Homo sapiens: one gene and its partner. The protein of the gene in region 2 interacts with the protein of the main gene of each other region in a biochemical or structural test. Each region holds a gene or a part of one and is shown on either strand. Other genes may lie near its edges.

The links.
Region 1: the proteins of CCDC91 (region 2) and AP2B1 interact in a surface display test, tested with the Homo sapiens proteins (one large-scale study listed by IntAct).

The regions. Positions count from the first base shown.
Region 1 is NC_000017.11:35,625,025-35,628,852, forward strand, and holds part of AP2B1 (AP-2 complex subunit beta), read left to right. Parts: intron 1-1,596; coding exon 1,597-1,818; intron 1,819-2,360; coding exon 2,361-2,481; intron 2,482-2,606; coding exon 2,607-2,702; intron 2,703-3,828. UniProt on the Homo sapiens protein: Component of the adaptor protein complex 2 (AP-2). Adaptor protein complexes function in protein transport via transport vesicles in different membrane traffic pathways.
Region 2 is NC_000012.12:28,543,130-28,546,957, reverse strand, and holds part of CCDC91 (coiled-coil domain-containing protein 91), read right to left. Parts: intron 1-3,828. UniProt on the Homo sapiens protein: Involved in the regulation of membrane traffic through the trans-Golgi network (TGN). Functions in close cooperation with the GGAs in the sorting of hydrolases to lysosomes.

The DNA of each region.
Region 1 (3,828 bases), on a different chromosome or scaffold from region 2:
AGATATGGAAACCATGTCAGTCTGAATTTGAAGATTTTAGAAGGCACACCTAGATTGTTCTGCTCAGCCTGTTACCATGTAATGTTGCAAATTTTCTTTGGTTATTAGAAATTGACTACTAAATTTCATCTACACATACATACATTTTAGTTTACAAAGTTGGAATTATCCCTAATTTTTATTGAGCATTTTGTATATGCAGGCACTGTACTAGGCAAAGTACTTCTGAAGAAATGTTGGCTCTTCATTAAAGTTGGTATATTTTAATTATGGTATTTAAGAACTGGTCTGGCTGAAGCTGATTTCCAAGCTACTAGAATGTAAGTGATCTTCACTTATCTGGGAAATTGTCCCTCTGGACTGAACTAAAGCTCACTCTGATAGTTTCTTTCCATCACTGAAAGTACAAATATAGTCTGGAAATAACTTTACTGAGAATTTTATTTTCTTCTGTTGGCCATTGACATCACATTCATTCATTCACTCACTTAGCAAATATTTATTAAGTGCATACTGTGTGCCAGGCAGTGTTCCAGGCTCTGAGGATACAGCAGTGAACAAAGTCATGGCCCTCTGGGATCACTTATTCTGAAGGATGGGGGTAGGAATATATATAATATGTATAGATAATATAATATATAATATGTATAGATAGTGTAATATGTAATATGTGAGATGGTGATAAGTACTAACAAGAAAGTAAAGTAGAGAAGAAATCTAAGAAATGCTGGGCATTTGGGGGTGAGGGGTTGTATTTTCTTTTTAAAGGATGGCCAGGGAAGACCTCACTGAGAAGGTGGCATTCATATAAAGACCCAAAGGAAGTCAGGAATAGGAGGAAGAGAGAAGTACAGCCTATTTATCTTCTTTCTTTAATACAGTAAGTTAGCTACTTGTGTTGCCCAAGCTACCAAAATTGGATTAATTTCTAAAGAACCCTCAACAGATAATTAAATATCAACCATTTTATGAGGCATGTAAGTGTAGGTGGCAGGGGCTAGGAGAGGGGGGAGACAGGAAAATATAGTAGTGGTGTCCTGCTATTTAAAAAACAAACCCTTTTCAGAGAGTCCCTTATTCTCATTATCCTTAAGAGAGGAGGTTGGATTGTTTTCCCTACCAGCCTGCCTCCTGCTGTATCTTACAATGAAATCTTCAGCCACAACTGCGTTTGCTGTCTCTTCCTATGAAATAACTCTCAGAATGCTTAATTTGACTTCCTATAGGTTGAGTAGAAATGGGCTGAGAGGCAGGGAGCCTTAACATAATATGGGGAGACAAAGAGGACTATAAAACAAGAAGGTAAATGGTGTGAGCTCAAGTGTCTTGGGTATTGCTAGGTTCTTTCCAGTTTGAACATCCCTTATTACTGGTTTCCTGAAGTCTTCTTATGTCCCTGCTCTGCCTGTAGTTTGCTGAGAATGAGGCTTCTGCATTGTTGGATCCCAATTTTACCTAAGCATGGAGCTTTGACTTTTCTAACTAATTCTTTAATTTTTTGATACTTGGCCATTAGACTCTGACATATTACCTTATAGAATGAATTCAGCAAATAAATTATAATTCATGATATTAATTTTCATTCTCCACCCTCAGCATCTGTGAGCGGGTAACTCCCCGGCTATCCCATGCCAACTCAGCAGTGGTGCTTTCAGCGGTAAAAGTCCTAATGAAGTTTCTAGAATTGTTACCTAAGGATTCTGACTACTACAATATGCTGCTGAAGAAGTTAGCCCCTCCACTTGTCACTTTGCTGTCTGGGGAGCCAGAAGTGCAGTATGTCGCCCTGAGGAACATCAACTTAATTGTCCAGAAAAGGTTGGGAAATAGCGAAGTGTTGATTAAAGTGTTTGTAATTTTGCATTAAGCTTAATAATGTCAATGTTAATTAGGCTAGTGTTAATCTCTTTTTAATATATGGAAATGAAAATGTTATATGGCAGAAAAACTTGCTTGCCTAGCACCAGGAGGCTAACAGTTGATATTACAGTGTTTCTATAATAAATGCCATGCGTTGCTCCACAATCCAGTTTGTTTTCTGAAGGGTCTCTTTCTGATATACTGTCTAGTGCCTGGTTGATATGGTTCAGGCTGTAGTTTAGAGCCAGATTGTTGTTCTAGCAGTTCTTCATGGCAACATGTGCCCTGATGCTTAAAAAGGATAAAAATAATCTGCCAAGTGGAACTGATAAGAATAGAGGCGTATAGAGGAAGTTTATGCTTTTTTTTTTTTTTTTTTTTTTTTGCCTGAGTGGAGCGAGAGGAGAGCAGAGAGGCACAGATTAGGTATTAATACAGTCTCAGAAGGGTATATCAGTATATGCCTTCACCTTCCTTTCTTCTGTTTCTGTGTACCCTAGGCCTGAAATCTTGAAGCAGGAAATCAAAGTCTTCTTTGTGAAGTACAATGATCCCATCTATGTTAAACTAGAGAAGTTGGACATCATGATTCGTTTGGCATCTCAAGCCAACATTGCTCAGGTCAGACTTTATGCAGACTCAAGTTGATGATGATTTAGCTCTTAAGGTCTGGCCTTTAAAGAAGCTAGGCTGTGAGATTGCTATTTGAGAATCCTTAATGATTAACCACTTCCTGGGTTTAACAGGTTCTGGCAGAACTGAAAGAATATGCTACAGAGGTGGATGTTGACTTTGTTCGAAAAGCTGTGCGGGCCATTGGACGGTGTGCCATCAAGGTGGAGGCAAGTGTCTGATGGTAGTTAGGATCATGTATTGGGGATTCTGAGAGTTCTCTTCACTTTTTTCTTTAAAATAATTTTTAAGTTTATCAAAATAATAAAGCACACAGTTTCAATGTTAAAGAATTTTTAATGGAAAGCAGCTGTCTCTGGTTCCTCCCTTCCCTACCTAGACTTTCTTCTCAGAGGGAATATTTTTAACTCTGATTTTGCTTTTAGTTATTCTTTTGATTAAAATAGGTCCTCCATATCCATGAGTTCCACATCCGTGGATTCAGCTAACTGCGGATCAAAAATATTCAGGGGAAAAGAAAAAGGATGGTTTTGTCTGTACTGAACATGTACAGACCTTTTTTTGTCTATATTCCTTAAAAATATAACAATTATTTACATAGTATTTACATTGCATTAGGTATTATAAATAATCTAGAGATGGTTTAAAGTATACAAGAGAATGTGTATAAATGCAAATACTATACCATTTTATGTAAGGCACTTAAGCATCCATGGATTTTGGTATCCACAGGGGCCCAGGAACCAATCTCCCATGGATTTGGAGACATGACTGGGCTGCCATATCTCTAAATAATATTCTTGGCTGGGTGCAGTGGCTCACACCTGTAATCCCAGCACTTTGGGAGGCCAAGGTGAGAGGACTGCTTGAGCCCAGCAGTTTGAGACCACCCTAGGCAACATAGTAAGGCTCTGTTTCTACAAAAACTTTTTTAAGTTAGCTGGGTGTGGTGGCACACACCTGTAGTCCCAGCTACTTGGAAGGCTGAGGCAGGAAGATTGCTTGAGTCTGGGAGGCTGAGACTGTAGTAAGCTGTTATTGTGCCACTGCACTCCAACCTGAAACCTTTTCACTCTGGGTGACAGAGCAAGACGCTGTCTCAAAAAAAGAACAACAATAATATTCTTATGCTATTATTTATTAATTTACCTATCATAGACTTTTTCTGTTAACTATCTGCTATAAGAAGTTTACTTCATACACCCACCATTCCCACTTCCGTCTCCTGTTTTCCAGTGTAGTTACATAATGAAGGTTTTTGTTCCTATATCCATTATCATGGTAGATTGAAATAATATGCCTTTGTTTCTTATTCTATCAACTGTTGGCTTGCAA
Region 2 (3,828 bases):
GTAAGTTTATTCTAACTTTTTTGTTGTTTTTCAAGCAATAAAATTTACAACCTGAGTGCACACCCTTCAAAAGATGTTCAAGGTACTGAAATCTGTCACATCTGCATATTGTAAATTGTGATACATATTGCCAAATTTCTTCCCAGAGAGTATACTAAGTTATCAGTCCCAACTGCAGTGTTATAGAGGATCAGTGTCTCTTGTTTTTTTTTCCTTTTAAACCGTTGCATAGTTTTCATTTTATAGTTATAATATATGTAACAGATATTTTAATATTCTAAAGCATTATATTCACAGACATTAAGATTGTTCATAATATTTGGCTATTATAATTAAGGCTGTAATGAACATCCTTCAACACAGACCTCTGTATACACGTGCTAGTATAGCTTGTGGAAATTGTATGAGCCAAAGAATATGTAGTTGGCAATGCTACCTCCAATTATAAATCAGCTTTCCATATATGCAGGAACCTGTCTTTAGGCTCTCCATCCTGTTCCCTTGAACAATTCACCTATCTCTACACAAATGTAATGCTATTTTAATTACTACAGCTTTATAATAAACCTTAATATAACATATATTGCCAATATAAAATATTTCAGAAGAATATAAATTAGTGGGCATTTGTAAGAAAACTGAGTTTAAGAAGGAAGTGACCAGACTACAGATAGTCTCATAACTCTTTTATCATAGGCACAAAATATAAGCAGAACTCAGCGGTATATTATTTTGAGACATATAAGTAGGCAAAAACCCATTTCTTTTTAAGGTAAGTAAACAATGCAATAAAAACTGAACTGAGGATAGTTGTATTTGGAGGATGAATCTGGCAGGATGAGATACGTAATTCAGTTTGGAGGTGGCTTCATGGGTGTTTGTTTTACTATTATGCTTCATAACTTGTGTACATATAACATATGTGCTAGCTTTAACAATTCAAAATCCTTCACAAATCGCCCAGAACAATCAGGAGATACATTAAAAACAAATATGACTTAATATCTTAGAATTTTTAGAAGCTAGATAAATGAGAAACTTTTCTCCTTTTGAGGGAATATAGTACAATTTCACAATGTGTAACAAGCATTCAACCTCTGTTGCTAAGTAACAATAATCTGAATTTGTGCATTCAAAAGGAGTATTTCTGTAATTTTTTAAGAGGATATATATATAAGGACAAAAAAAGTTTGATAGATTTCTGTTTAAACACACCACACGCTTCTCTTGCTTGTGTTAGATGTCACCAAGGAATTACTGACTATAAGATGGTAGGCATGAAGGTTTTGGTTTTAGGCAGCTGCCAAGGCTCACTTCACATCTTTACCACTCCCTCCCCAGAGCACTCTGAAAGTAAGAATCCTTTAAATAAACAGGAGCACAATACTTTAAGAAGCAACAAGGCGAACCGATACTGTATGAGGAGGAAAACAGAGATTGGGCCATCACAAAGCTGAGCTTCCACTTTTGTGGGTCCTTCTTGGGCATAGTACATAGATCATGGCTGTGGGATGGAACACATACAACCTTTCTCTTATAAGGATGTTGAATTCCTCTCTTTGAAACAAATACATCAAACTGATGTTCTTGGCAAATTCCTGAATTTCAACAGTTACTGTTTTATTAGGCATGACCTTCTTATCCTTTATTGAGGCGAGAAGAATTTTGGCAAAATATTCACCTTTTTTGCTCCTTAAGGTATGGGACTTAGTTCTGTATTTGTGGCTTTCATTTCAAAGTGAATCAAAGATTTGTATTCTGTGACATAGTAATGAAAAATATTATGTCCAGAGTAGTGGTGGCAAATATTTTTTTGATATGGGGTTAAAAATCTCTTCATAATAGAGTAGCTCTAACCGATTTGTTTTCTCTTCCATTTTCTGTTGCTTTAATTTCTATTCAGCTCTTACACATATCTGAAAAATCTGGAAATTCTGAAGTTTCTGAAATAGACAACTAGGCTTCAGTTTGCTGGTATAACTGCTGAAAGCCTTTTAGAAGCATACTACTTACTAAAATTTTTAATTTTATTAAGCTTGTGGGGGGAAATAGCATGTCTTCTTAATAATTTCATGTATTAGATTTACCCTTTCATGAGTGTTTCATGCCATTGCAAAAGTAAAAGAAAAATAAAACATCTCTTGACCTTAGCTTTTTATTTGCCAGTCATTAAAATGCAATATGATGGTGAATTTACATTGGTCTAAAGTGCAACATTCAAAGTCAATTACAAACACATCTGGCTTATTTTAATTGGACTGTTTATTAAGAAGACTGTTCACATCCAAAAAGATATAATTCATTGTTTTGAAATATATATATGTGTGTATGTGTATGTGTGTGTGTGTGTCAAATACACATAGTACTAATTGCACTTTCAATGTTTTGAGCTTCTACCAACAAAATACACTAAGAAATGTGAACATGTTACATCTACCTTTATCAATGTTACTTTTCCAACTTACACTCCTACATATTTTAAATTAATGCTTAAAAATGACTTCATTTTTCCAAAGAGCTAGGATGGCTATCCAGCAAATCCACTCATGGGTAAAGTGACTAGAGAAGACCACTTAGAGAAGGTGGTAATTAAGAGACTTGAAAAGAGACAAGAAGGGAGCTATCTAAAAACATGGGGAAAGAAATTCTCAAGGTAGCTGGAAACACAAGGAAAAAACTCCAAAAGGGGGGTGCAGACTTGGTTTGATGGAGAACTGGTAAGAAATCCATTAAGATTGGAGCAAAATTACCAAGGAGGAGACTGGTAGGGGAGGAGATCAGAGAAGTAGATGGAGGCCAGAGCATAAAGGGCCCTAAAGGTTTGCAGTTTGATGGGAAGACATTGGAGAGTTTTCAGCAGGAGTATGACCATGCTTTGTTTGAAAAATATCGTACAAATTATTACGTGGAAAACAGACTGTAGCGGGACAAGAGTGGAAGAAGAAAAGCCAGCTAGGAGACTTTCAGTCTGGAAAAGATATAAATTTGACCAGAATATTGGCAATGGTGGCTTAAGAACAGTTCAGGTTTAGGATTTTAAGACAGGACCAACTTGAGTTGCTGATGGATTGGAAGTATAGATGAAAGGAAAAGAGAAATAAAAGGCGATTCTTTGAATAATAGTGTCCTATCCTGAGATATGATAGACTGGAGCTGGAGTGAGTTGGCCAGAGGAAAACTGTTTTGTTTCAGACATGATAAATTTGTCTAATCTCATCAGACATGTTGGAGATGTCAGATATAGGGGTCTGCAGTTCAGGGGAGATATCAGGCCTTGAAATAAAAACGTGGACGTCATCTCCATATAGAAGGCATTTAAAGCACAGATAAAAATATTTAGGGAATGAAAGTGGATAAAAGAGAAAAGGTTACAGGACTAAGTCCTGGGACACTCGGGGATGTCCAAGGAAGAGAATACAGTCATGGGTTCTTAGTTTCTGTTTCTGATTGGGCCAGTAAAGTCCCTTCCCCATCGCTCTTTTCTGCTTATCACTAGAAACAGAAACTAAAAACCACGGCTTCAAGCTGCTAAAAACCTAAAGCAAAACAAAACAGAACAAAAACAACAAAATAAGGCGGGTTGCACAAGCTTGCTAGCACATGATCTTGTAAGAGAACAGTGGGATATTCGATTCAACAGATAATTATTGTAATGGGTTGAATTGTGTCCCCCAAAAAGATATGTTCAAGTCCTACCCCCACACTTGTGAATGTGAGCTTATTTGGAAATAGGGTTTTTGCTGATGTAATTAAGATGTAAACTGAGATGGGCTCTTACTGGATTAGGGTAGGGCTTCAATCCAATCACTAGTGTCTTTACACGAAGAG